Linked DNA regions of Homo sapiens: regions 2, 3 and 4 are each linked to region 1. Evidence: fine-mapped expression QTL. A gene starts in region 1. Each other region holds a variant in brackets. All regions are shown on one strand. Distances are from middle to middle.

Region 1 (7,537 bases):
AGCTATTAAGAGGAAAAGATAAAAAATATACATAACGTGCCCGATGCCAATCCTACCACTTAGCAATAATTGCTGGATATCTCTTAGTACTCTCTACCTCCTTTTTCCAGAGTGCTTTCATTATGCCTAGCTCAGCTTGTGACAAAGAAATTTTCCTTGGAATTTTTCAGGGCAACAAAGAAGGGGTTCAAATTGCCTCTTTTTACCTTGAAGATTTTAAAGCCAATATAATTAAAATGGGATAGGTATAAGGACTCCAGGTATGCATAAGGCCATTCCTTGGACCATGATATCTGACTACTTTTCTTACAGAAGCTGGAAAGTAAGAGGCTTCATTAACTACCTCATGTGATGTGAGAACTGACCACTCTGGAGGGAAGCTGTTACTCAACAAACATTCTCAGCACTCTTAAGGGCTAAACACATAGAAAACGATTGTGGCCAGGCAGTCACATGGACCCTGCCCTTTGCAGCAGAGGTAAGCAAAACATGAGCAACAGCCACATATAAATTAAGATCTGACATCACTTTCCAAATCAGCAGCAAACAAACCAAAGAACTAGAAATTATCTCACAAGAGTTTTGACATTTGTTACCAGTAGTCACACTGACAAAATGTGTACGGAAAGAAATATCTAAATATACACTAATTTTATAAGTTATAATTTTTCCATATTTAAAACTGACAGGCTGGGCACAGTGGCACATGCCTGTAATCCCAACACTTTGGGAGGCTGAGACAGGAAGATTGCTTGAGGCCAGGAGTTCAAGACCAGCTTGGGCAACACAGCAAGACCCCATCTCCACAAAAAGTTTTTGAAAAAATTAGCTGGGCATGGTGGTGCAAACCTGTAGTCCCAGCTATTGTGGAGGGCTCAGGCAGGAGGATCCCTTGAGTGTGGGCAACAGAGTAAGACCCTGTCTCTTAAAGAAAAATTGACCAAAAAACCCTAATGAAACAAAGTTATTCAGAGTGCAAAGACTAGCTATTTTTTTCTTCAGTGGAAGTACAATTTTTCTTTTGACAAACTTCAATAACCAGATAATTAGAATCCATTACCTCTGTGGTACATATTAAAATGAATATTTCAAACTAGTCTCTTCCAGATCTTAAAAATTCACTGTGAGGAATTTCTAAGGCCCTTACTGCCAAACCTAACATAAAAGAATCAATACTGGAGCAGAGGTAATAAATGCTAACACAGAATCTACAGTTCAATATAGATGAGAACCATACTGAAATGAACATGATGAGTACAATATGGCAGCATTGCTAGAAAGAGGTCTTGATATCAAAATAACTCGTGATTCATAATGTATTTAAGTTACTGACCTAAGTAATTACCTAATTCTCTCAGCTTAGGCTTATTTATCTGTAAAACTGGAAAACACACCTTACTAAGTTCCGAGGATGCTCTGAGGACACATGATTACAAATCCATGTACTGTGATAAGTCCTTATACAATGAATTTGGACTACACTACGACGTCATTTGACAAAGCTTATTGCATTAGTAACTCTCTGAGTATAGAAAAAGAAAAAGCTTGTATAATACTAGTGGAATTTTCAAAGACATTCAAATTATAGCATTGAGAACTCTCATCTTGAGTCAACTAGATACTAAGTTAGGTGTTCACTGACATAAAAGAATGTCAGAATTTTCATAGCCGGGCAGGGTGGTGCATGCCTGTAATCCCAGCTACTCAGGAGGCTGAGGCAGAGAACTGCTTGAACCCGGGAGGTGGAGGCTGCAGTGAGCCCAGATCGCACCACTGCACTCTAGCCTGGGTGACAAAGCGAGACTCCGTCTCAAAAAAGAAAAAAAAAAAAAAAAAAAGTCTGAATTTTCAAAAACCTCATCTTATAAAACTGTGAGTGACAATTCTGAGTGCCAGAGGCCTGTAATTGGTACTCATTCAAGTAACCGTCAACGTCTGTTCTACTGTTACCTTCCAATAAACAACTATGCTGGAAATTAGATCTTTCAAGACTCAAATGGTTTAAGAATTCAAGGTGTCCGCCGGGCACGCTGGCTCACGCCTGTAATCCCAGCACTTTGGGAGGCCAGGCGGGGGGATCACGAGGTCAGGAGATCGAGACCATCCTGGCCAACATGGTGAAACCCCGTCTCTACTAAAAATACAAAAATTAGCTGGGCGTGGCGGCGCGTGCCTGAAATCCCAGCTACTCAGAAGGCTGAGGCAGAAGAATCGCTTAAACCAGGGAGTCGGAGGTTGCAGTGAGCTGAGATCGCGCCACTGCACTCTAGTCTGGTGACAGAGAGAGACTCCATCTCAAAAAAAAAAAAAAAAAAGAATTCAAGATGCCAAATTTCTGATACTTGCCTACATAAATTTTATGGCTGAAATACGGAGTTACGCTAGCCTGCTTAAAAAGACTCTGTCGAAACTCGCTCCGTTTTATGGAGGAGAATTTAAATGGTATTGCCACCATTTAACTAATTTTTCCTGAACTGGTAGTGATTCTGCAGTTCTATCTGCAACTGTCACCCAGTTCTAGTCTCCTTTTAAAACATCACACATTCGTGGGGCAGTTGGCGGGGGTTATTCTGCAGCCAAATAATGTGAAGCTAACTAGAACTGAACCAATGCTCATTTGGCAAGGACACCTGAACTCTGAAGCACTTCGTAAACAGCTGATTATTTCTAGTAATACTCCTGTGAAGTTTCAGTATTGAGCCATCCACTGTATTTCATTGCCAACTATATGTCGCCTTAAAAACAAGAAAAGTGCAAGACAGTTCCCTGGTTATTTGAGTCAGAGTCTCGCTCTGTCGCCCAGGTTGGAGTGCAGTGGCACAATCTCGGCCCACTGCAACCTCCACCTCCTGGGCTCAAGCGATCCTGCCACCTCAGCCTCCCGAGTAGCTGGGACCACAGGCGGGCGCCACCACGCCAGGCTATTTTTGTATTTTTTGTAGAGACCGGGTTTCGCCATGTTGCCCAGGCTGGTCTCGAACTTCTAAGCTCAAGTGATTCGCCCGCCTCGGCCTCCCAAAGTGCTGGGATTACAGGCGTGAGCCCCGGCGCCTGGCCAGTTCCCTGGTTAAAAAAAACTCGCAAATGTAGTCCAATTCGTCTTAAGTGTAAATACCTACCACCTGGGGCAAGACCCAACTTAAAAGGGAGGGGCGCCTCACAACAGTTAACCTGGCACCAGTGATTTGGTCCGAGAATCTTAGGCTTTTAAAGCTCAAGTCCAAACCTTTATTCTACAAATAGATTTTAAATTAAGGGCTTATGGTCTGGTTATAATCGCTAACTCTTACACTGTACTATGTACTTAGTACAGTTCTAAGTGCTTTACACCTATTTACTCCTTTAATCCTCCCAAAAAACCTGAAGCCGAGTGAAGCCAAGTAGTTTGCCCAAGGTAACACAGATATCAAGTGACGAGGTTAGAATTCAAATCCAAGCAGCATAGCTTCAAAACCTAGAGTCTTAAACCACCTGACTCTACTGCTCTTCTAGGACTCAGAGTTCTAATGTGAGAAAAGAATCCTCTATAGAGCTTTCTTTCAATTCCACCATCGCAAATGAATTGCAAACCTGTGACTCAAAAGTTCTTCCTGTGTGCAACCTTAAGTAATCTGACTTTTACATCCAAAATGGGTAACCTCTCTGGAAAACTAAAAGATGCAATGGCCAGTCTGAAAAGAACTCATGCTTCCCGTTGTTAGTGGGGTTCTGTTGTGTTGTTTTTTAATTGCAACACCTGAAACGCCTTAAAACACAAGTAAACAGGCTATCAGCCATTTTCCTGAGAACAGCAAACACCTATTACACTTTCATGATGCCTAAATTGATGAATCTGAGCTAAATACAGGAACGGCTGTCTTTTTCCCAGCTGTCTCTAATATATTTGGAAGACGGTAGACTCAGTTTATGCATGTGAATGTATGTGAGAAATGAGGGGGAAGTGGAGGGTGAGGAGGGGGAAGTGGAGGGTGAGGAGGGGGAAGTGAAGGGTGAGGAGGGGGAAGTGGAGGGTGAGGAGGCTATTCACTCCTCCACCTCTCCAAAGCGGGGCGACTCAGACTCAGACCCTGCTGCTAGAACTTAAAACCAGTATCACACCATTTCTGCCTTGGCCGGCTTCAGTGCCTCTCCAGGCTGTAGGGAGGTGGCTACGTGGCGCTAAGAGGACTTCCCCCAGCCAGAGAGGAGGTGGCAGCCCCAGGTGGTGGCATCCCCTCGCCCGGGGCCCCGCGACAGGGGGCGCCAGGACTTCCCGGGGATCCCCCAGGAGGGCAAAGTCTGAAGTGGCTAGCCTGGAGCCGCAGTTGGGCCAGGGCCTGCCTAGCAGCCCCTCACAGCCTCTGCGACCACTCCTGCCAAACCAACCTCCCAGCCTAAAGGGTTAGCCGACGCGCCGGGGACGGGGCCGGGCTCCTGAGGCAAAGGCACCCAAGACGAACGCTATATTCTGTGGGACACTCACCAGGTTGAGGGGTCCTTCCATTACTTCCATAGACCCCGGGGTAAGCGGCGGCCTTAGGAAGGGGAGTAGTGGCGCCGGGGAACATGGAGGGGACTGCAAGGGAGCTCGACGCAGCCGCGGAGACTGCGGCCCCTCTCTGCGCCCCAAGAGCCAGCGATAGGCGCTGAAGGAGCAACAACCTCACCACTTCCTCCTCCGGCGCCGCGCCGCGGGCCCGCCCCCTGCGCCACCGCCGAGGCCACGCACGGCGCCATGACGTCACACGCGCAAAAGGCTGGTTCAAGGTGGGAATGAGGACAGGCAGTGGGTGGGGCCCAGGGAAGGCGGGGCACCAGCTGATGTACGCTTGCGAGCGGTCAATCTTTCCTCTCGCGAGAAGCGTTAGTTTAGGTTCTTAAAGTCTACACTGAAGTCACGTGAGGAGGTACAGCCTTGCTGTTGAAGACTTGAAATGGCTGTCTTCTGCAATTAGCTTCTCACGTTTCCTTTTAGACTGACTTTTCCTTAAATCTGCTAATCGTTACACCGTTACTTGTGGTCCTGTCCACACCTTTATCATTGTACATGATTCATTTTTTCAAAAGGCCGATTTGAGCAATTCTAGACCATGCACTGGACTAACCCCCCTAGAGGTCAGCACACTCGAATGATTTAGGGCTCTGCCCTCAAGTTGCTCACAAACTGATAGGGAAACAATTTTGGTCTAGCCAAATATAATACTGCATTCATTTAACAATTATGTGCCAAACAAAAGCTAGGTTCGTTCTGTCATGGAATTCACTGACAAATAGTTGTGATTTATGCTGGAAAGGGAACACATAGGGAGCTGTGATAGAGTAACCAAGGTGGAGTTGGGTGGTAAAGGAAAGCCTTTCATGGGGGGCGTGATTTTTTTTGAGAAAGTGTCTTGCTGACGCAATCTCCACTCACTGCAACCTCCCTCTGCCCGCCCCCTGCCCCAGGCGATCCTCACACCTCAGTCTCTTAAGTAGCTAGGAACTACAAGTGCTCAGGCCAGGTTAATTTTTGTATTTTTTGTAGAGATGGGGTTTCGCCATGTTGCCTATGCTGATCTTGAACTGCTGAGCTCAAGTGAGCTCAATGATCCGCCCTCCTGGACCTCACAAACTGATGGGATTATAGGCATGAGCTACCGCACCTGGCTAAGGGCGTAATCTTTAAGATTAAACCTTAAAATGCCAGTTAAACAAAGACCCTTCTCGACAAAGGAAATGTCTTATGCCTCAACTCTAAAGGCGGGGAGGTCGGGTGGCGGGAGCTGCAGCATTTCAGAGAGATGCAAAAGAAGATACCAGAGAGATAGGAAACTTCCAAAACATAGGTGTCCTTGCAGTGCACAATGAAACATTTGAATTTTACTCAAAGTGCATTGGGAAATAAGTAAAGGATATTAAGCTAGAGAATAATCTGCTTTAATTTACAGTTTTGAAAAGATTAATTTCCCTGTAATGTGAAGAATAGATTGTGGAAGGCCTAAGGAAAAAGAACCAAGACAAGCTAGTTGATTGACTAATTATGGGCGCTCAGACTGGAATGGAAGTAGGGAAGATTGGGTCATGCATCCACTCATTACATAGTTATCATGTTTCTACCATGTGCCGGAAACCTTGGAAGAGAAGTAGATATATTCAAGATATATTTTTGGGCATCAGGTTGAGAGGAGTTAGTGATGGAATGGCAGTAAAGCATACAGAAAATGGAAGAATCAAATCTCGTATTTAAACAACCAAGTGGCCTAGCACACTGGCTCACCCCTGTAATCCCAGCTCTTTGGGAGGTCAAGGAGAGCAGATCACTTGAGGCCAGGAGTTTGAGACTGGTCTGGCCAACGTGGTGAAACTTCATCTCTACTAAAAGCACTAAAACGTAGCCAAGTGTGGTGGCGCGTGCCTGTAATCCCAGCTACTGGGGAGACTGAGGCAGGAGAATTGCTTGAACCTGGAAGGCAGAGGTTGCAGTGAGCTGAGACCAATCACACCACTGCATTCCAGCCTGGGTGACACAGAGAGACTCTGTCTCTAAAAATAAAAAAATAAAAAAGTAAACAACCAAGTGGACAAGATAGTGAGAGACAGGACTAGCTGGATTTCCTAGGCCAACTAAGAATTCCTAAACCTAGCTGGGGAAGGTGACCACACCCACATTTAAACACAGGGCTTGTAACTCAGTTCACACCCGACTAATCAGGTAGTAAAGAGGGCTCACTAAAATACAAATTAGGCTAGAAGCAGAAGGTAAAGAAATAGTCAAATCATATATCGCCTGAGAGCACAGGGGGAGGGACAATGATCAGGATATAAACCCAGGCATTCGAGCAGGGAGTGGCAACCCCCTTTGGGTCCCCTCCCATTGTATGGGAGCTCTGTTTTCACTCTATTAAATCTTGCAACTGCACACTCTTCTGGTCCATGTTTGTTACAGCTTGAGCTGAGCTTTCACTCACCGTCCACCACCGCTGTTTGCTGCCATCACAGACCCGCCGCTGACTTCCACCCCTCTGGATCCATCAGGGTGTCCACTGTGCTCCTGATCCAGCGAGGCGCCCATTGCTGCTCCCAATCGGGCTAGAGGCTCGCCATTGTTCCTGCAAGGCTAAGTGCCCAGGGTTTGTCCTAATCGAGCTGAACACTAGTTGCTGGGTTCCACGGTTCTCTTCTGTGACCCACGGCTTCTAATAGAGCTATAACACTCACTGCATGGCCCAAGGTTCCATTCCTTGGAATCCGTGAGGCCAAGAACCCCAGGTCAGAGAACAAAAGGCTTGCCGCCATCTTGGAAGTGGCCTGCCACCATCTTGGGAGCTCTAAGAACAAAGACCCCCTGGTAACAATAGGAAGGAGCTAATTTGTATGGAAAATGAAAAGTTCTATCTTGGGCACTGTATTAATTTCCTATGACTGCTGTAAGAAGTTACTACCCATTTAGTGGATTAAAACAACAGAAATTTGGAGGCTAGCAGTTCTGGAGGCTAGAAGACCAAAATAATTTTTTTTTTTTTTTGAGACGGAGTCTCGCTCTTTCACCCAGGCTGGAGTGCAGTGGCTCGATCTTGGC
Region 2 (7,537 bases), 420 kb before region 1:
TCCATCTGAAAAGAATTATATTATTCCTTGCTTCCCTCCATGGGTTGCCAGGAAACTCAGAATCAAATCTGTTGTTCTACTATATCAACACTTGTGGTCCTCAGAACTGGCATATTTATATTTGTACTCACCAAATTTTTATTTTCTTTGATTGCTATTTTCTAGTCTCAATTCTGTTATTTTTCTTTATAATTTAACATATCAATTTGGAAAAAAAATTCTCAAATCATTTGAAAGAACATAACAGAGCATAAACAGTTAAAATGTAGTAGTCAGTGTAATTAAGCACAAAATGCAGCTCTAAGGTGCCAGGCAAACCAAGAAAAGACTGGTCCCCAACCCTGCAACACGTCAAAATCACCTGGAGAGCTTCTTCTTTGTTGTTGATAAATTTAACGTAGGTAATTAATTTAAACAATAGAATAAGGAAGAAAACGCTAAGCAAAAACCTCCCATTTTGAAACAGTGGCATTTCCCAAAGATAAGCATGGAAACAGTTTATTTGGTATCCAAACAGTAAGATAAGTTATACATATAACATTTATTAAAGACAAAGGGAAATAGTCAAAAACTCATTATTTTCTAATTATATTTATTCCTAATTATTTTACATTTTACTATGCTCTTCAAGTTATATACTTCTATTCTATCTGTATGGTGGAAATACTAGAAATACTAAGTGTGCTGTGTGCATTTCTTTCCAGCTCCACATTCAGTGAGGTCACGCTGCGAGCTTGAACTAGGCTATTGTAGGCAGTACTTTACATCACAGAAATTAGCAAATTGTATGAATCAGTCCTCTTTCCCTCAGTTGTCAAGCATTACCGGCACACCACTGCCTACATGGGTTTTAGCCAAGGGAAACTATAGTATGTTTTTATTGGGAGGACAATGGAACACTATACATAGGGAGAATTCACAGAATTTAGTGAAATCAAAAAGGCAGCCCATTATAACAACCAAGTTTCCTGGCTTGACCCTGGGATCAAAAAACAAGCAAAGGCCGGGCGCGGTGGCTCACGCCTGTAATCCCAGCACTTTGGGAGGCCGAGGCGGGCGGATCACGAGGTCAGGAGATCGAGACCATCCCGGCTAAAACGGTGAAACCCCGTCTCTACTAAAAATACAAAAAATTAGCCGGGCGTAGTGGCGGGCGCCTGTAGTCCCAGCTACTTGGGAGGCTGAGGCAGGAGAATGGCGTGAACCCGGGAGGCGGAGCTTGCAGTGAGCCGAGATCCCGCCACTGCACTCCAGCCTGGGCGACAGAGCGAGACTCCGTCTCAAAAAAAAAAAAAAAAAAACAAAACAACAAAAAAAAAAACAAGCAAACAGAAAACAAAACAAAACAAAACAAAACAAAACAAAAACCCCACCAATTTTAAAAATGATTTCATGTAAAATTAAGAGAGAGGGCAAATTTTTCTGTCATTTATAATAGTTCACTCAAATTCTGTTTGAGTATTAGTTCTCTAATATTAATATAGACTGTAATGAATTTAAAAAATAGAATCATAGGCCAGGCATGGTGGCTCACGCCTGTAATCCCAGCACTTTGGGAGGCCAAGGTGGGCGGATCATTTGAGGTCAGGAGTTCGAGACCAGCCTGACCAACATGGTGAAACCCTGTCTCTACTAAAGATACAAAAAAAAAAATTAGTCGGGCATGGTGGCCCGCGCCTGTAATCCCAGCTACTTGGGAGGCTGAGGCAGGAGAATCGCTTAAACCTGGGAAGCGGAGGTTGCAGTGAGCTCTGTTGCAGTGGGTGACAGAGCGACTCTGTCTCAAATAAATAAATAAATAATAAAATAAAATCAGAATCTTAATCTCAATGAGGAATCCCAGAAATAGTTTATAAGAATGGTTTTCTGGTTTTTTTTCAAGGTAGCATTTTTCCCCCAGAGGAAATGTTTCTTAGGAACTTCATAAATAAAGAGATAAATGCAGTTAACAGGTTCCTAAGACAACTTATTTTCACTGATTGTAGAATCCTCTGATGAATTTTAAACCCTTGACAATTATTTGAAAAGTGCCCCTTACAAATGGTTCAGTAGCTCCCAAACCTGTCTATGTAAAATAATCAACTGGGAAGGAGGATTTTTGGCAGTAGGGCTCAAGGATCTGAATTTCTAAATTCTGCATCTTCAACAAACCAATGTGTGACAATATTATGCTTAGTTTGGTGTTGGATTAAAACTGATTATGATTAAGCAATATGTTGTCAGTACAGTACGTTGGTTAACTGGATTTTTTAAAGTAATGTGAAAGTCATTATAGGTTATCTGGACTTTTGCCACGCTCTATCCTTCACTTAGATGCAAAAATAAATGTAAGACATCATGATAAAAGAAGAGAGAGTTACAAAGAGTAGACTAAATGGTTACAAGTAGTGCAAAGTCTACTGATAACCAAGGTACCTGTGTATATTCTCCCTGTGATAAACTTCCTACATGAGTTTTTCTGCCATGGCAGCCATCAGGTAGCAAAGGTCATGCATGATCACTGCCAAAATAATATGTAATTTTTGTCTTACACAAATTTTAAGAAAAATACATTTGTTGCTAAAAATCTCTGTCAGTAGAGAATTCCCATTTAGTAAAACAATGGTTAAGTGACTAAACCTTAAAGAAAAATATGAAAATTCCATACAAGGAGAAAGAGTCAAACCCATGGGGAAAAAAACAACAACAGCCCCAAATCCTGAATTCTATAACCAAAGGTCCCCATGTTTAAAACCATGAAGGAGAGAAAAAGACAGTGGAAATTCCTTTGAAAGACTTTATGTTTTTCATAATACTCATCAAAAGCTATGAAACTTGGAATTTTCATGTTAGAGCTAAACTTAGCTAAATTGGAGCTACATTTCTAATTTTACTCCAGAGCCTATAATTTCTATTCTAAAAGGAAAGGTAAAGATGAAACTAGAGGGGAAAAAAAATCAAGCTACAGCAACTCAGACTCAAACTTCCTCATCTCCTCACTCTCTCCCCACTAGCCACGCCCCACTACAACCACAAGGGCCTACCATGTGGTAGACCCCAACAAAAAAATGTTTAGAAGAATGCTGAACTTGGAACAGAGTACACTGTAGAATCAAGGGCTACAAACCCTTGAAGCACTCCAGTAACTCAGCATCCTGTGGGTAGAGTACCACAGAATGGCTCATAGGGCTGAAAGAAGACAATGGTCCCTACAATCTACAGCACTCCACAGTTTTCCAGCTGCAATTTTTCCATCCTGATTGTCATTACACACAGAAAATTCATAGGCGAGGTAGGTGCTATTGTTCTAGTTCTACAGATGATAAAAGTAAGGCTTAGAGAGATTAATGATCTTATGAATTAAGCACATAGCAAGTGTTAAAGCCAAAACATAGAACTTCTAATTTGAAGACCTGTGCTCTTTCCTCTATACCAAAAAACT[G/C]TCCCCCAAAGAAAACCTGTATTTCATACAATGTATAGCTCATAGCAGATCCCCAATATTAACAGTTCGATGATGTCAATATTCCGAAGTTCTCTAAACAATTGTAATTCCACAGGCATACTACTGTCATATAAAAAAAATATCTGAGACCCATTTTCTGATTGTATACTAAGTCTACATAAAGGAATATGCATGTCTTTAATCAACAATCATCACACCCTTTAATTCCTATCAAATGATTACTCATGATCTGACCAATTCCTGATTCCTGAGTAACTCTTGACTCAGAGGAGTTGTTTACTTTATTTAGCCCCTTAAGCACAGGATGTGTAAAATTTGAACTTACCATTAGGCCCACTGACTTAAAGATAACGTGAAAGTTCAATTGCAATCTAAGGTTTTTTTTTTTTTTTGAGACGGAGTCTTGCTCTGTCACCCAGGCTGGAGGGCAGTGGTGCGATCTCCACTCACTGCAAGCTCTGCCTCCCGGGTTCACGCCATTCTCCTGCCTCAGCCTCCTGAGTAGCTGGGACTACAGGCGCCTGCCACCACGCCCAGCTAATTTTTTGTATTTTTAGTAGAGACGTGGTTTTACCGTGTTAGCCAGGATGGTCTCGATCTCCTGACCTTGTGATCCAACCGCCTCGGCCTCCCAAAGTGCTGGGATTACAAATAGGCGTGAGCCACCGCCCCCGGCCAATCTAAGTTTTAAAAAGCTTCTGGTGAAGAAAAAACATGTACAAACAATTGTGAAAACATTGCAAAAAATTTCCTCTCCTGAAATACATCCGTCTCTACAAATTAAAGGAGGATGAGTAAGGAAAGCCATAAACACAAATTCTACCCTATTCTGTGCAATTCATTCAGTATCACATGACCACAAAGTGAACTTCTCTAAACTGAACTCAGATATAAAATTCTGGCCAAGCCCTCCCATAGAACATTCATACCTAATGTACAGTCTAAGCTACAGTCACCTACAGGCACTTCACCAATGAGCATGAAAACGCTTCACCAGGTTAATTTAATATTTTGCTTTCAAACAATCTTTTAAGTCTCCATTAAACAATAACAGGTATCACTGACGGCATACTACATGTCAAGGCACTGTGTTTTTCTATCACTAGGGATACATCAGTGAACTTGCTATCGCTTTTTAATGAAAATTAAATTTGTGATGATTTGGAAACCAAAACATTCTATTTTCATATTTCTTAAACCACTTCCTTCATTCCATTTATTCAAATCACTCTAATACCTCCAGCATCTCCAACACAGTAATTTTTTCCCATGCCACTCCCTGTAGCTAGAACAATCTCGCTCTTCATGTTGTGAGCTCTCCCTCCTCTCAGAGCCACACTGCCTGTTTACTGTCTTTCATTAACGGGGCTTTAAAAAAAGGTTTGGTCTTCTTATTTTGTAAAGTAAGTGAACAATAACAGAAGTTACATTACAGAAGTAACAACCAGAACATAAAAATTAAGTCATTGTAAAAGCATTTGTGAGTATTCTCCATGTTCTCTTGAGATGGTCAACTGACAAAGACAATGTCTAAGTACTTTCTTACTACAAGAAAATCAGAGAGGTGGGAACTTTATTTCTATCTGGGACAACCTGACAGAAAAAGAAACAAACATGTGCCACAAGAACTACACTACCACCTAATTTAATTCTGACATCAGTAATTACAGCACAAAACCAGCAGACTGGCTGCTTGGCACTAGCAAGCCCCCTGTGTCTAATGAAACGTCACTCAAAGGCAGTCTGGGATGATCCTACTTGAGAAATGGTATAATCTCCACCAATCCTAACTTTACTACTTTTTTCCTCCCTAAAGAAACATATACAAGTGATTAAATGAAGGGCAGTCCATCTATCAACTGAAAAGAAGGGGTGTTAAAATTCCTCATCATGAGGGCACTGTTCTGCTAGGGAGAAAAAAGAGAAATGACAATAAGATGCAATGCTATTTGATTGGATTCTGTATTAAAAACAATAACCAGGTAGCTACATAAGGCACTACTTGGGCAACTTGGGTATTTTGGATATGAACTACTTTAGGTATTAATAGTTCATCAATGTTATATTTCTTTCTTTTTTTTTTGAGACGGAGTCTTGCTCTGTGGTCCAGGCTGGAGTGCAGGGGCAAAATCTCGGCTCACTGCAGGCTCCGCCTCCTGAATTCATGCCATTCTCCTGCTTCAGCCTCCCGAGTAGCTGGAACTACAGGTATGTGCCACCACACCCAGCTAATTTTTTTTTTTTTGTATTTTTAGTAAAGACAGGGTTTCACCGTGTTAGCCAGGATGGTCTTGATCTCCTGACCTCGTGATCCACCTGCCTCGGCCTCCCAAAGTGCTGGGATTACAGGCGTGAGCCACTGTGCCCGGCCCCAGTGCTGTATTTCTTAAGTGATATTTGTCTTGTGACTATATAAGATAATGCCTTATTTAGGAGATATAATAATTAAGACAGAAATGCCATAATGTTGGCCACTTACTCTTTTAAAATAAAATTTTAATTTTAGAACAGTTTTGCAGAAAAAGTGTGAAGATAGTACAGATAGTTCCCATAAACTCCACAACTGATTTCTCTTATTCTTAAAATTTTACATTGGTATGACACATTTGCCACAATTAAGAAACTAATAATAATATATCGTTATTAATTGAAGTCCATACTTTATTCAAATTTTCCTGGTTTTTCCTAAGGTCTCATTTCTTTTCCAGGATCCCATCTGGGATCCCATCCATTTACCATATCATGTTTACTCATCATGTTTTCCCAAGCTCCTCACTAAGTTTCTCAAGCCTGAGTTTTGATAGCCTTGATAGTTTTGAGGAGTGCTACTTAAGTATTTTTTAGAATGTCCCTCAATTAGGGACATTTGTCTGAAATTTTTCTCAAGATTAGACTCAGGTCATGGGTTTTTGGGAGTAATATCACAAAGATGATGTGGCTGAGGTAGTATATGTTAGGTAAAGTTACTGGCGCCCCTCCCCAGATTTACATACCACGTTTTTTGGCAGAAAGTCACTATGTACAGCCTTAAGGAGTGGGGAGTGATGCTCCATTTCCTTGAGGGCAGAGTATCTACATAAATTATATGGATTCTTCTCCAGGAGAGATTTACCTATTCTCCTGTATTCATTTATTTATATGAGTATGGACTCATGATATTTATTTTATGCTTTGGATGGTATAATCCAATACTACTTTATTTTGCTGCTTAAATTGTTCCAGATCTCCTTGGGTCACTGGGATCTTTCTCAATGTCCTGTGTCCCTACGACATACCTACATTGTTTTTGTTTGAGCACTTTCTTTACTTTCTGGCACTACAAGATGCTGCAGGCTCATCATGTATATTTCCTGCCCATTCCTAGAATCAACATGTCTCTAAGGAGCCTTTATTCCTTTTATTGGAAAATGGTATTTGAAACCAAGATCTGGACACTAGCTATTCTTGTACTACTGGAGTGTTGTTGATTCTAGTGTTAGTTTTATATGTTAATTGTCTGTTTTATATGTTGTTATTTTTATAGATTATTGTTACCTTTTGATTTTATGAATTTTGCTGAAGTGTATATATTGTATATCTGTGAACCCTTGTATTAAATAACTTTGCATTAAGACTTTCCTACATTGAAAGCAAGCAAATACCTGTATCTCTATATATTTTTAGTTCATTTATAGCTTATTTATTTTCTTTTGATGGAGAGGATAGTAGATACTACCTGAGGTCCTTAGCCTTGACATCCTTATCCTTCCTTAACCTGGAGCTCTAGGTTTGTGGCTTATTGGGCCCAAGGAGGAATGCCAACTCTTCCTCTGTTGGGGATTCCATCCTTACCAAATCTCTGCCATCCTTAACAATACTACCCTGTGAATGCTACCTTACCAGAAGTGCCAACTCCTAGACTCTGGATATGGGATTTTTAGTACTTGGGGCTTTTCAATTTAACTTATCCCCACCCCTACCTAAACTCAGAAATTTAGAGACTTCTAAGAAAATTAACCTTAAGAACTGAGCTGTAAATAAGAATTCCCAGGTCTGCTGTGTGTTCATCCACACTGCTGACACTAGATATAATCCCATAGTAAGCCATCTAGTTAT
Region 3 (7,537 bases), 260 kb before region 1:
GCATTTTATTTTCTTTTTCACTTTTGAGACAGGATCTCACTCTGTTGCCCAGGCTGGAGTACAGTGGTGCGATCACAGGTCACTTCAGCCTCATCAACTCAGGCTCAAGTGATTCTCCCACCTCAGTCTCCTGATTAGCTGGGACTACAGTTGTCCACCACCACATCCGGCTAATTTTTTGTATTTTTTGTAGAGACGGGGTTTCACCATGTTGCCCAGGCTGGCCTCAAACTCCTGGGCGCAGGTGATCTCCCTAACTTGGCCTCTGGAAGTGCTTGGATTACAGGCATGGGCCGCTGCTCCTGGACTCATTTTTTTCATATACGGTGTTGGCTGTTTGTATGTTGTCTTTTGAGAAATGTCTGTTTATGTCCTTTGCTCACGTGTGTGTGTGTGTGTGTGTGTGTGTGTGTGTGTGTGTGTGTTTATGTACTTTTTTGCCCACCTTTTTTTTTTTTTTTTTTTTTTGGAGACGAAGTCTCGCTCTGTCACCAGGCTAGAGGGCAGTGGCGTGATCTCGGCTCACTGCAACCTCTGCCTCCCGTGTTCAAGCAGTTCTCTTGCTTCAGCCTCCCGAGTAGCTGGGATTACAGGTGCATGCCACCACGCCCAGCTAATTTTTGTATTTTTAGTAGAGATGGGGTTTCACCGTGTTGGCCAGAATGGTCTTGATTTCTTGACCTCATGATCCACCCACCTCGGCCTCCTAAAGTTCTGGGATTACAGGCATGAGCCACCATGCCCGGCCTTTTGCCCACTTTTTAATGGGATTTTTTTTTAAACTGTTGAGTTTCTCATATATTCTGAATTATTAGTCACTTGTGCGATGAGTAGCTTGCAAATACTTTCTTCCATTCAACAGGTTGTCTCTTCATTCTGTTGATTGTTTCCTTTGCCGTGCAGAACTGTGCAGTTTAATATAGTCGCATTTATCATTATTTATATCGCCTCTGGAGTTTCAGGTCTTAGCCATAAAATCTTTGCATAAATCTGTGTCCTAAAGTGTTCTCCCTTTGTTTTCTTCTAGTAGTTTTATAGTTTGGGTCTTATGTTTTAAGTTTTTAATCCATCCTGAGTTGAATTTTGTATACGGTGAGAGATAGGGGTCCAGTTTCATTTCATGTGGATATCCAGTTTTTCACATACCAATTATCAAAATGGTTGTTTTTTCCATAATGTGTTGTGTGTTCTTGGAACCTTAGTGAAAAATCTGTTGGCTGTGAGACGGTGTTTGCAAAATTGTAACTGAGGAAATTGCGACAGTGAAAGAAATCAGTGGTTTTAAATACATGTTACACTGTTAGCAACTTTTACTTTTGGTTTAAAGCCTGGTTAGTACATGATTTTAATTTAACCAATACCATCCTATTTTGGCCACTGTAGGCTTGTAATATATTTTAAAGTCGGGTAGTGTAGTGTGATTCCTTCAGTTTTGTTCTTTTTGCTCAGGATTGCTTTGGCTCCTTAGGCTCTTTTTTACTTCCATAGGAATTTTAGGATTGTTTTCTCTATTTCTGTGAAAAATGATGTTGGTATTTTGATAAGGATTGCATTGAATCTTTGTATCGCTTCAGACAATATGATCATTTTAATGATGTTAATTCTTCTTTTGAGCATGGGATGTCTTTCTATTTGTGTCTTCAGTTTCATTCATCTGTTTTGTAGTTTTCATTGTAGGCATCTTTTCCCTTTTGGGGTACATTTATTCATGGATGTTTTTTCTTTAGGTATTATAAATGGAATTGTCTTTTTTGTTGTTGTTGTTGTTGTTGTTGTTGTTGTTGAGACGGAGTCTCACTCTGTCGCCCAGACTGGAGTGCAGTGGCGCAATCATGGCTCACTGCAAGCTCTGCCTCCCGAGTTCACACCATTCTCCTGCCTCAGCCTCCCAAGTGGCTGGGACTACAGGCACCCGCCACCATGCCCAGCTAATTTTTTGTATTTTTAGTAGAGACGGGGTTTCACCGTGTTAGCCAGGATGGTTTCCATCTCCTGACCTCATGATCCACCCGCCTCGGCCTCCCAAAGTGCTGGGATTACAGGCATCAGCCACCACGCCTGGCCACCTTCTTGATATGTTTCTCAGCTATTGCATTATTGGTATATAGAAATGCTACTGATTTTTGCTTGTTGATTTTTTTATCTTGCAACTTTACTGAATTGATCAGTTCTATGAGGTTTTTGGTGGGATCTTTAGGTTTTCCTAGATACACAGTCACATTATTCTCAAAGAGGGACACATTGACTTCTTCTTTCCCAATTTGGATGCCTTTATTTCCTTATTTTGCCTGATTGCTCTGGCTAGGACTTGCAGTATTATGTTGGATAGGAGTGAAGAGAGTGGCGGCTTTTTTGTTTTGTTCCAGTTCTTAAAGGGAAGGTTGTCAGTTTTCCCCATTCAATATTATGCTAGCTGTTGTTTGTCACAAGTGGCCTTTATTATGTTGAGGTATTTTTCATCTGTGCTTAGAATGTTGAGAGTTTTTATTATGAAGGGATGTTGAATTTTATCAAATACTTCTTCTGTGCCTATTAAGATGATTCATGACTGTCGATTTACATATGTTGAACCATCCTTGCATCCCTGGGAAAATTTTCACTTGATCTTGATGTTTTTGATGTGCTGTTGAATTTGGTTTTCTATTTTGATAAGAATTTTTGTATGTATGTTCATCAGAGATATTGGCCTGTAGTTTTATTTTGTTGTTGTTGTTGTTGTAGCATTCTTGTCTGGTTTTGGTATTAGGGTAATATAATGCTGGCCTCTTAGAATAAATTAGGAAGAATTCCCTCCTCTTCAGTTTTTTGGACTAGTTTGAGGAGAAGTGGTGTTAGTTGTTTCAAAGTTTGATAGAGTTCTGCAGTGGGGCCATCTGATCCTGAACTCTTCTTTTTTGGGAGATTTTTTACTACTAATTTTACCTCATTACTTGTTATTAGTTTGTTTAGATTTTCTATTTCTTCCTGATTCAATCTTGGTAGTTGTATGTGTCCAGGAATTTATCCATTTCTTCAAGGTTTTCCAGTTTGTTTTTGTATAGTTGTTCATAATGGTCTCTGATGATCTTTTGTATTTCTGTGGTATCAGTTGTAATTTCTCTTTTTTCGTTTCTGATTTTGTTTATTTGGGTATCCTTTTTTGTTGTTTATTCTCAACAAGCAGTTAATTGATTTTGTTTATCTCTTCAAAAAACAGTTTTTCATTTCATTGATCCTTTGTATTTTGTTAGTATCTGTTGCATTTGTTTCTTCTTGATCTTAATTGTTTCTTTCCTTCTGTTAATTTTGGGCTTGCCGTGTTCTATTCTGTTTTCATGGGATGTATGGTTTGACACTGTATTTGAAATTCTGTTACTTTTTGGTTATAGGTATTAATTATGAACTTCCATCTTAGCACTACTTTATTAAATATTCTCTAGATTTTGGTATGTTTTGAATTGATTTTTATTTATTGTAAAGCTACATTTGATTTCATCCTTAGTTTCTTTCTTGACCTAGTGGTCATTTAGGAGCATGTTGTTCACTTTCCATGTATTCGTACACTTCCCAAAGTTCCTCTTTGTTGATTTCTAGTTTTATTTCATTGTGGTCTGAGGGTTTGATACAATTCTAATTTTTAAAAATTTGTTGAGACTCTATTTGTGTCCAAAAATATGGTCTATCTGGGAGAATCTTCCATTTGCTGGTGAGAAGAATATGTGTTCTTTAGCTGTGGGATGAAATGTTCTATAAATGTTTGTTAGGTCCATTTGGTCTAATGTGCAGTTTAAATCTAATGTTTCTTTGCTAATTTTCTGTCTGTTAGCATGCAGTGAGTTTTTGGGAAAAAAAAAAAAGGAAAAAAAAAAGAAAAACAAAATTCTGTCTAGATGACTAGATGATCTCCCTAATGCTAAGAGTGGGTTGTTGGAAACCCCAATTATTATTGTACTCTTTCTCTCCATTTAGATCTTTTTTCTTTTTCTTTTTTTTTTTTTTTTT[G/TG]AGACAGGGTCTCACTTTGTCACCCAGGCTGGACTGTATTGGCACGATCTCAGCTCACTGTAACCTCTGCCTTCCAGGTTCAAGCGGTTCTCCTGCCTCAGCCTCCTGAGTAGCTGGGATTACAGGCATGTCACCAATTTTTGTATTTTTAGTAGAGATAGGGTTTCACCATGTTGGCCAGGCTTGTCTTGAACTCCTGACCTCAGGTGATCTGCCCACCTTGGCCTCCCAAAGTGCTGGGATTACAGGTGTAAGCCAGCACACCTGGTCTCCATTGAGGTCTAATAATATTTGCTTTATACATCTGGGTCCTCTGCTGTTTGGTGCATATATGTTTAGAATTGTTATATTTTCTTGATGAATCAATCTCTTTTATCGTTATATAATTACCTTGTCTCCTTTTACTGCTTTTGACTGTTTAATTGTAGCTACTTCTCCCCACTTTTGGTTTCTATTTGCATGGAATGTCTTTTGTATTCCTTTACTTTCAGTTTATATGTACCTTTATAGGGGAGATGAGTTTCTTTTGGGCAGCATATAGTTGTGCCATTATTTTAAATCATTTCAACTAGTCTGACACTTTAATCTGTTTTATTATTAACATGTGAGGGCTTATTCCTGTTATTCTATTACTTAATTTCTGGTTGTTTTGTGTATTCATTGTTCCTTTCTCTCTTCTTGTTAACATTGTGGTTTGGTGGTTTTCTGTAGTGCTATCGTTTGAGGCTTTTCTCTTCCTTGATTGTATTTGCTCTACCACTGGGGTTTATATTCTGTGTGTTTTCATGATGATAGATACCATTCTTTATTTTCCCAGCATCAGACTCCTTTAAGCATTTCTTGTAGATTTGGTCTAGTGATGATGAATTTTCTTGCTTTTACTTGTTTAGGAAAGACTTTATTTCCCCATCATTTATGAAGGATAACATTGTTTGGTATAGTATATTCGGCTTTTTTTTTTTTCTCCTTCAGCTTTTTGAACCTATTATCCCATTGTCTTCTGCCCTGTAAGGATTGTGCAGAGAAACTGCCGTTAGTCTGATTGGGGTTCATTAATAAGTGACTAGATAGTTATGTCTTGCTTTTTAAAGAATTCTCTGTCTTTGACTTAGTGACATTTTTACTATAAGGTGCTCTGGAAAAGATATTTTTGAGTTATATACCTTTGGGGATCTTTGTGCTTTATCTGAGTATCTAAACTTTTTGCCAGCCTTGCGAAGTTTTCATCTATTATTTTGTTAAACAGACTTTCTAGCCCTTCAAGTTTTCTTGTTGCCTCCTCAAACACAAAAAATTTGAAAATTTGGTAGCTTTATGATGTCCTATATGTGATGAGGATTTGCTCGTTCTTTAAGGAAATTTAAATTTTCTTTTTTCGGCCAGGCGCAGTGGCTCACGCCTGTAATCCCAGCACTTTGGGAGGCTGAGACAGGCAGATCACAAGGTCAGGAGATCAAGACCATCCTGGCTAACACGGTGAAACCCCGTCTCTACTAAAAATACAAAAAATTAGCCGGGCATGGTGGTGGGCACCTGTAGTCCCAGCTACTCCGGAGGCTGAGGCAGGAGAATGGCAGGAACCCAGGAGGTGGAGCTGGCAGTGAGCTGAGATCACGCCACTGCACTGTAGCCTGGGCGACAGAGCGAGACTCCGTCTCAAAAAAAAAAAAAAAAAAAAAAAATTTTTTTTTTCTTTTTTCTTCTGACTGGGTTATTTCAAAAGGTCTGTCAAGTTCTGAGATTTTTTTCTTCTATTTGATCTAGTCTGTTGAAGGTTTGAATGTATTTTGTTTGATTCGATGAATACATCAGGTCCCGAATTTGTTTCATCCTTTTTTATGCTGTCTCTTTGGTGAATTTTTCATTCATATCCTGAATTGTTTTTCTTTTCTTTGTATTATTTTCTTTGTGTCTCAGTGTAACAGAATACTTTAGTATCAATATTTTCAATTCCAAGATTTTATAAATTTCTTTTTGATTGGAATCTGTTGTTGGAGAATTACTGTGTTCCTTTGAATTTATTATCATGGATTCACATTTTCTTGCTTCTTCTTGTTTCTTTTATTTCTACATTGATATCTATGCATCAGGTATTGACAGTCACTTCTTCCAATAGTTTGAATTTCCTTTCATAGGGGAGGAATTTTTCCTAGAGATGTATCTGTGGTGTTGGTTGGGTAGGGCACTTTTGCTTTGATTCTGGATATATGCAGTGGTGTAGACTCCATGTGATTTTTTTAGGCATTAAACAGGGTCAGTGTTGTCTGTGATTTCTTCTGTGGTTTAGTGGGTGGTTCTTAATGGAAGCTGTGGTGACATTTTATTAGGGAATGGGTTGCCACATGGGCCACTTTGGGCTCCTTTGGTGTTAGTCAGAAGATCATGTCTGTTTTGGGGCTTCAGTGTGGCGTATGCTGCCACCAGAGTTAGTGGGTCTGTGCAGGTCGATTCTTGGGCTTCCAGGCAGCTTGCTTGGGTGCCAGGAATGGCAGTAGTGGGGTGAATGAGTGGGCAGGTTACTGGGCCCTGGGCGGTAGGCGTGGCATAGTTGATGTCAGTAGCAGTGGCAAGACAACCCCCTGGAACCCAAGCATTTCACTTTGGTGTTGGCAGAGGTTGTGACAGGCTGACTAAATCAGTCTCCAGGCCTGCTGCAGGTGCCCACATGTGGGTGGGTGTCAGCTTTGGTGATAGTGGTCAGTTGAATGGACCCTGGCCCCTGGAAAAAGTGCTCAGGTACCAATGGTGGTAGACTAAGCAAGGTAATCTCCAGACCCTGAGCAATGTGCTTACATACTGGAGGGGGCTGAGCTTGGATGAGCAGACCCGTCCTCAGGTTCCCTGATTGTTTGTGCAGGCACTGGCTGTGGTCAACAGGGGTGGCATGATCCCCAGACTACCAGTGGAATGGTCAGGTGAGGGCTCCAGCCATCATGTTGCAGCCCTGCTACTGGGGAAGGTGGGTTGCTTTCTGTTGGAGCAGCTGTAGGCAGGCAACTGGTAACTGGGCAGGTGCACTTTGCTAGGGTGTTGACCCTGGCAGCAGTAGCCCACAGTACAGATTCTGGGGTCTGTGAAGTTTGTATTTAGGGCATATGAAAATGCCTAGTTACCCCACTGCTAGGGAGGGTGGGGTCCGGCTAGTACCTTGTGTTTTCCTTCAGGGCTGTTGATTTGGGAGATAACTTACTCTTTTTGGGGTGTGTGTGTGTGTGTGTCTGTGTATGTGTGTATGTTTCACATTTTTTAGGGTTAGCCTGCATCCAAAGAGAGTTTATTCTTTACAATAGTGAATCTTTTCATTTGTGAACACAGTGTATCTATTTAAGACTTAAGTTTCCATGTTTGGTGTATTGTAGTTTTCACCGTATATGCTCTGAACATTTTTGTTATATTTCTTCTTCATTTTTTTCTACTTTTTATTGTCTTAAAATACTGTTCAAATCAGGATCTGGAGTATCCTGGGTTATACAAACCTATATATAAGTAAATATACATTTTTTATCGTAGTTTGCTTTATTGCACTTAGCAGATGCTGAATGTTTTTAAATAAATT
Region 4 (7,537 bases), 110 kb before region 1:
GATAGATCTCCTGCCAGAAAACCCCAGGTGGTAGGGAAGCTGGTTGTCCACCTTGATCTTACTTTTTCCAGTGTTGTAGAAACCATAAGTTGGTGGGAAAGTGTGGTCCTGGGCAGATTGCTGGGAGGGGCACTGCAGATAGAAAGTGAGATTCTCTCTCAAAATAAATAAATAGAAAGTCCAATTCTCTTATTATCTGCTTCTGGTTTTTTCACTTCTCTGTGGCCCCAGGACTGTCTCCCTCTCATATTTGAGGTCTGGGATGTTATTGGTGATAATCTCAGCATTGTGTATTTCTTTTTTGTTTTCTACTGAGGGGAGTGAACCCAAACATTGTCATTTTGGAACTGGAAGTCTGTACTTGTATTTTTTATCAATTTAATTTGGCTGGTGGTACAAGGTGGGTATTTCTGCCTTTGTACCAAGAACTTCGAGAACTGATTTATTGCTAATATTATTTAAAATCAGAAGTTGCTTACAAATTAGTGAAAAAAAATTTTTTTTGAGACAGAATTTTGCTCTTCTTGCCCATGCTGGAGTGCAATGGCGTGATCTCGGCTCAGCGCAACTTCCGCTTCCCAGGTTCAAGCGATTCTTCTGCCTCAGCCTCCCAAGTAGCTGGGATTACAGGCATGCACCACCATGCCTGGCTAATTTTGTATTTTTGGTAGAGATGGGGCTTCTCCATGTTGGTCAGGCTGGTCCCGAGCTCCCGACCTCAGGTGATACTCCCACCTCAGCCTCCCAAAGTGCTAGGATTACAGGCGTGAGCCACCACGCCTGGCCAAATTAATCAAATTTTAAGATATAGAGAGAACCAGAATCAGCTCACAACAATTGTAGAATAAGTTACTAAATTCTATTGAGATTTTGTTGAAAGATACCTATCTAGCCATATATATATTTATATATATATATATATATATAATTTATGTTAGTGTATTTTGGCTCTTTGAGAGAAGTCAAAGTTTACATCTGTTAAAAGTCTCAGAAATTGGCAATAGAACAACAGTCCATCTTGGACTCCATTCCCAATTTTGTTGCTTACTATCTGAAATGCTATGAAAGGCATATAACCACTTAACCACTTAAATTTTTATTTTTATCTATAAAATAGGTATGATATCATTGCCATTGTCTATGAGGTAATATATATGAAAACACTTTGTACTCTAAATTTTTTTTAATAAGGAGAATATATATGGTCAGAGTTAAGAAAATAAATAGGTCTGTTTGGGTAAATCTCAGTTTCTGTTCTGTGTGCTTTCAAGAGACTCATTAGAAAAGTAATCTGTTTTTGTTTTTGAGACAGAGTCTCGCTCTGTTGCCCAGGCTGGAGTGCAGTGGCGTGGTCTCGCTTCACTGCAACCTCCGCGTCCTGGGTTCAAGTGATTCTCCTGCCTCAGCCTTTCAAGTTGCTGGGACTGCAGGCATGTGCCACCATGCCCAGCTAATTTTTGTATTTTTAGAAGAGACAGGGTTTGTTTCACCATGTTGGCCAGGCTGGTGTCAGACTCCTGACCTCAGATGATCCACCCACCTTGGCCTCCCAAAGTGCTGGGATTACAGGTATGAGCCACTACGCCCGGCCTGCTTTTTTCATGTATCCTAAACCTGCTGTGTCCGTTATTGGTAGCTACTAGTCATATGTGGCTATTTAAACGTAAATTAAATAAAACTAAATTTTAAAAAAGTTCTTCAGTCGTGCAGGTCACATTTCAAGTGCCCAGATAATCGTATGTGGGACAGTGCATGTATATACCATTTATGCTGTAGAAAATTCTTCTCAACCACTTAGCCTCTAAATGCTGAATACTGCACAGAAAATGACATCCATGTATTTTGGTACCATTGTATTGTCTCCAGTATCACCCTAGCCCTTAGTATATCATTTGGCATTCTTTTCGCATGCCCCTGTGAACTTCTGTTTCCTAAAGTAATTATTCCAAATTATCACTACTTTACTCAGCTTCCTCCTTTTCTCTTAATAGATGATCTTTCTCCTGTTGCACAAAGGAAATTGAGGTTATAAGCAGGAACCCCGTTAGCTTCCTGTTCTCATATCTATTTTTGTACCTCTCCTTACCTGCTTTCCTCTTGTCTTAGAGATGTGTCTGTTTTAACTTCTACTACTTCAGTTTTACAAATATGTATTAGATACCTGCTACATCTCAGGTACTACTTTAGGTATTTAGGGTACAGCCATGAACAAAACAAAACAAAAATTTGTTGCCTCCTATAACTTACCTTCTTGTGGGAAAAGACAGATGGCAAACAAAATAACTGTTTAGCATATTAGAAGACAGTAGTACTATGGAGAAAAGTAAAGCCTGGAAAGTGACAGGAAGTGTCAGTTGTAACAGAAAATGGATAGGCCCTAAAGCAAGAAGATTGAAAAAATAACATACTATGTGAAAATTAGTAGAAAATGATGTAGAAAGGCTATAAGGGTAAATTAAATTGGGCTTTTTAGGCTATTATAAAGACTTTATTTTTTATTCTGATTAAGCTTGGAGTGAAAGCCTTTGAAGCATTTTGAGCAGAAAAGTAATATGATAAAACTTTTTCCCTTATATAAATAATTTTAAACCTATGTAGTTATAGAATAGTAAAATGTGCTTCCATGTAGCATGCAGCTTTAACAATTATCGATTTGTGGCCAGTATTGTTTCACTTTACTGCTCGTCTTCTGTCATAGATATTCCCCTATGTATGATAGTTTGACTTAGGACTTTTTGACTTCACAAGGGTGAAAAAGGAGCATTCAGTATGTTCCTGAGCTTTCAACTTAATATTTTCAGTTTAGGATGGGTTTATCTGGATGTAACCCCTTCATAAGTCGAGCATCCGTATTTCAAAGCAGATCCCACACACTGTATTATTTTGCCCCTAAATTTCTAAGTGTGTGTGTATGTGCATAAATTAAAACAGTCTAGCTCTATAGTCGAGTCTCATTCACAGTACTTATGTTTTATAATACCGCCACTTCTCAGCAACACCAGGAATGATAAGAGTATCATAGGCTTACTCATTTGCTTTGTCTTACATTATGTAACCACTAGACTTAGAATAACAATACTAAGGTTACCACCAATGGTATAATTGCTGAAAACAGTGTATTTTTTTGTTCCAGTTCTTTTTATCCTTAGGAGATATCCCGCTGGTCATATACTCAATTTATTGTGTTTTGTAGTCGTTTGGAATTGTTCCTCTCTCTGCCTTATGTTTTAAAAAGCTAATATCTTTTGTATTCTAGAACCTGTCTTCACAGATACTTTTCTAAGTTTACCAAATCTT[A/G]AGCCTATTTTTCTTTCATTGCTTTTCTTTTCATTATATAAACTCAACCCTCTAATATAAAAAACTAAAAGTTATCACACCCAGTCTGGTTATGGCCTTATCTTACTCCTTTCCTTCATAGCTGGACTTCTTATAATGTGAACCGTTATATCTATATTTTCTTGCTTCCCAATAATATCTTCAGTTATTGCAGCCTGGTTTCTTCCTCCACTTCACAAAACTGATGTTGCTAAGATGGCTAATCATCTCTTAGTTACTGCATTTAATATTCAAGTGTGCATCACTGTCCTACTGAACCTTTGCATTTAACACTGGATCACTGTCCTTTTGGAAATTCTTTGTTCCTGTTGCTACTCTGATACTTCTCTTCAGGTTTTCCTATTTTTTTAATCAGTCTTTGCTGTATGTTTGTTCTCTCTGTAGAAGATTTAGTGTTTATGTGATTTTTTTTTGTAGTGCTCCTTATTTTCTGTAGTGTTCCTTTTTGGTTTTTTCCATTTCACTACTCACCCTAAGCCGTGTCACATTTCCACTGTCTTTTAAAACCCTGTCTTCTGAATCCAAAACTCCAGACCTCTCTGCTCTACCATTATTTAATAACTGTTTACTAAGCATCTTCTCTGTGCCAGGCAGTATTCATACAAAATTTCCTGCCCCCATGGAGTTAAAATTCTGGAGAGGCCAGGTAGATAATAAGTGTAATAAGTAACTTATATAGTGTGATATACAATGTAATAAATGCGATGACAAAATGAAAATGTAAAGCAGTGTAAGATCAATAAGGATTGGGGAGGGGAGAAGCAGATATTTAATAGAATGTTCAGAGTAGATATCATTGAAAAGGTGAAACCCATGTCTTCTGCTGTCTATTTACTGTATTCACATTCAACCATCAGACCTTGATTTCGTTTTTCTTCCTGATCATTCTGTATCCCAGCTAATGAGATCAATCACATCTATGCCAGTTTGTCACTTAAATCAACATGTAGGGCCAGGAGCGGTGGCTCACGCCTATAATCCCAGCACTTAGGAGGCCAAGGTGGGTGGATCACCTGAGGTCAAGAGTTTGAGACCATCCTGGCCAACATGGCAAAACCCCCGTTTCTACTAAAAATACAAAAATTAGCCGTGTGTGGTGGCACATGCCTGTAGTCCCAGCTACTCAGGAGGCTGAGGCAGGAGAATTGCTTGAACCCAGGAAACGGAGGTTGCAGTGAGCCAAGATTGTGCCACAGCACTCCAGCCTGGGTGACAGAGCGAGACGCAAGTCTCAAAAAAAAAATCAACATGTAGGAATGTTTTAGGTCTCTCTCTTGCCCTTACATATTAGTCTCCCAGAATTACTAATTCTGCCTCTTTAACTTTGCTTAATCTGTCCCTTCTCCTCTATCGTAAGGCTCCCATCCTTACCCGCCTAGACTATTACAGAACACTCCAAACTACAGTCTTTCAGTTTTCTTCCTCACCTACTCTGCTGTCCTTAATTCAATCCATACCAGTGTACTTGTCCCTATATTCCATATTGTTTCACCCATCTATTCTTGCGTATGAATTTTCCTCTGTCTGAAAGACCTTCTTTTCTGATCTCTTATTATCTGGCAGATGCCCTTGCAGTTTTGAAGTTCCAACTCAAAAACCTTGGTTTCATACTTTTCTTGAGTCTCAACTCAAATATTTCCTTCTCTGTAAATCCTTTCCTGACACACCTAACTAGGTCACCCGCCAACCCATTTTGTCTCACCTTTGTATCCTAGAGGATACAAAGATACTTTAATCTGTATCGTATTTGTGTGTCTGTCTCAATTCCACTGGATTGTAAGATCCTTGAGGTCAGGAACTTTGTCTTAGATATATTGCCAGTGCCTTGGCACAGTAATTGATACCAGGTGTTCAAAATCTTGTTGAATGAAATATATTCCTAATAAATTTTAGTAATGAGAGCCTCCTAGTCCCACACTTAGACTATTTCAAACATAATTCCAACAAGCTGTCAAATCTAGTTTCCCTTACCATAGCATATGAGAAGCCAACACTTTAAAAAGTGGTGATGGTAGATTGGCAGCTTGACAGCATGAGGTTATGGAAGAACTAAAAAACAGTTACAACTAAAATTTTGTCTTTCTGGAACAATTTGTTATAGAGGTTACAGTTTACATCGATTATAACTGCATCATAATATAAAGATAACCATGAGTATTAATTTAAAGACCTTATGTTCAGTATGTTATTTCATGAAGGAACTCTAAATATTTTTATTCAAAATTAATAGAATTTCAGCAAATTATGTTATATAAACTCCTTTTTTAAAGATAAACTATAATAAGCATTTAATATGCTTCATTCAGTTTATGTTCTCTTCCCTTTTTTAAATTAAATTTTCTAAATACGTTAAACTTTCTAGGAGCAGTAAAAAAAAAATGCTGAAAGGCATCGTAAAGAGTACTATGGATAATACCTTCCTTAAAAATTCTAGGTGGCTAATGTGCTTTTCTATTATGATACATTGGAATTTTAGTTATAGCTTCCTTCCTTTTTTTCTTTTTTTTTTTTTTTGAGATGGAGTCTCACACTGTCACCCAGGCTGGAGTGCAGTGGCACAATCTTGGCTTGCTGCAACCTCCACCTCCCAGGTTCAAGCGATTCTCATGCCTCAGCCTCCCAAGTAGCTGGGATTACAGGCACCTGCCTCCATACCCGGCTTTTTTTTTTTTTTTTTTTTTTTTTTTTAGTAGAGACGGGGTTTCACTGTGTTGGCCAGGCTGGTCTCTAAGTTTTGACCTTGTGATCTGCTCACCTTGGTCTCCCAAAGTGCTAGGATTACAGGCATGAGCCACTGTGCCTGGCCGCCTTTTTTTCTTTTTGTGTAATTTAACACATTTCTTATGTACAGGTTGAGTATCCCTAATCCAAAAATCTAAAATCTGAAAAACCCCAGAATCTGAAACACTCAAAGGAAGTGCTCATTGGAGCATTTTGGATTTCAGATTTTCTAATTATGTGTGCTCAACTACTAAGCGTAATGCAAATGTTACAGAATTTTTAAAAATCTGAAATCTGAAACACTTCTGACTCCAAGCATTTTGGATACAACCTGTATTTGTAATTGCTCTACAAAGACCTCAGTGAAGGAAGTGGATGGACTCAAATAGGTGTCATAAAAGACTAAGTCACTGGGCAAGTCTAGCAAGTCTTGCTGATCATTCCAATTTGTACTGGATTGTATTCGTTCTTTCTGAGAAAATAGAAGTATGGTACTATAGTTCATTTATAGATTCATCATTTCCATAGCACTATATGCTAAAAGTGAAAATCAGCCCAAAAAACTTCGATGTGGTATTAATTTGGAAGTTACATTCATTGCACTGTATATTAAAAAAAAATTTTTAGTGAGTGTTTGGCGAGGCACAGTGGCTCACGCCTGTAATCCCAGCTCTTTGGGAGGCCAAGGCGGGCAGATCACCGGAGGTCAGGAGTTTGAGGCCAGCCTGGGCAACATGGTGAAACCCTGTCTCTACTAAAAATACAGAAATTAGCTGGGCATGGTGGCAGGCACCTGTAATCCCAGCTACTCGGGAGGCTGAGGCAGGAGAATCACTTGAACCTGGGAAGCGGAGGTTGCAGTGGGCCGAGATTGCGCCATTGCACTCCAGCCTGGGGGACAAGAGCAAGATGTCTTAAAAAAACAAAACAAAACAAAACAAAAACAGTGTTTGTTCTGTATGAATCAATCATTGACACGATGTATATGTATACTATTTCAATATTAGTTGTTTTTAAATATATATTTAGAGACAGGGTCTCTCTGTTTCCCAGGCTGGTCTTGAACACCTGGCCTCAAATGATCTTCCTGCCTCAGCTTCTCAAAGTGCTGGTATTACAGGCATGAGCCACCATGCCCAGCCTCAGTATTAGTTTGTGCACAGGAATTTTCAGTAGAATACTTTATACAAGTATATAATTTTACTTCTTTTTTGTTGTTGACCTCCCTCCCCAGCTTCCCAGGAATTTTTTACTTCTTAAAGCTTGGGTTGTGCTGGAGGAATATTTTCAGTTACTACTTTGGAAAATATTAAACAGTTCCCAGGCCTTCCTGAGTTTGTTTCAGTTTAAGTTTGAGGAAGCTGCAGTTAGTAAATTGTGGTTGGCAGATGCTGTAAGCAGGTGACTCAGTAGGTTAAACTCATGATGACTCAACTGTGTAAAAGTCATGCCAATAAATAGCTTGAAAGAAAAACTGCCT

Direction of the effects. Alleles are on the strand shown, and positions count from the first base shown. SD is a standard deviation of normalised expression in the study named. Not every link is listed here.
For the expression in monocytes of the gene that starts at base 4,635 in region 1, allele G in region 2 goes with a higher level than allele C (large effect, 1.3 SD a copy in BLUEPRINT).
With allele G in place of TG in region 3, the expression in subcutaneous fat of the gene that starts at base 4,635 in region 1 is higher (moderate effect, 0.42 SD a copy in FUSION).

What was found. PIP is the estimated chance that this variant, and not a neighbour inherited with it, causes the effect. A credible set is the group of variants that fine-mapping cannot tell apart.
Region 2: its variant is the best candidate, but not a certain one, in a credible set for the expression of NRBF2 in monocytes (BLUEPRINT, PIP 0.64).
Region 3: its variant is the best candidate, but not a certain one, in a credible set for the expression of NRBF2 in subcutaneous fat (FUSION, PIP 0.78).
Region 4: its variant is the best candidate, but not a certain one, in a credible set for the expression of NRBF2 in whole blood (INTERVAL, PIP 0.62).

The regions. Positions count from the first base shown.
Region 1 is chr10:63,130,426-63,137,962 of GRCh38, reverse strand. NRBF2 (nuclear receptor binding factor 2) reads right to left here and starts at 4,635. Exons shown (of 4, transcript NM_030759.5): 1 at 4,463-4,635. The coding sequence starts at 4,492. RefSeq lists silencers at 4,089-4,358, 4,569-4,818.
Region 2 is chr10:63,550,399-63,557,935 of GRCh38, reverse strand. The region is part of intron 1 of REEP3 (receptor accessory protein 3); the gene reads right to left. Among named protein-coding and RNA genes, the nearest start is that of REEP3, 33 kb to the right of the region's middle. The variant G/C (reference allele first, on the strand shown) is at 3,422.
Region 3 is chr10:63,385,756-63,393,292 of GRCh38, reverse strand. All of the region lies in intron 1 of JMJD1C (jumonji domain containing 1C), which reads left to right. Among named protein-coding and RNA genes, the nearest start is that of MIR1296, 16 kb to the right of the region's middle. The variant G/TG (reference allele first, on the strand shown) is at 3,982.
Region 4 is chr10:63,236,494-63,244,030 of GRCh38, reverse strand. The region is part of intron 3 of JMJD1C (jumonji domain containing 1C); the gene reads left to right. Among named protein-coding and RNA genes, the nearest start is that of NRBF2, 110 kb to the right of the region's middle. RefSeq lists an enhancer at 2,769-3,305. The variant A/G (reference allele first, on the strand shown) is at 3,298.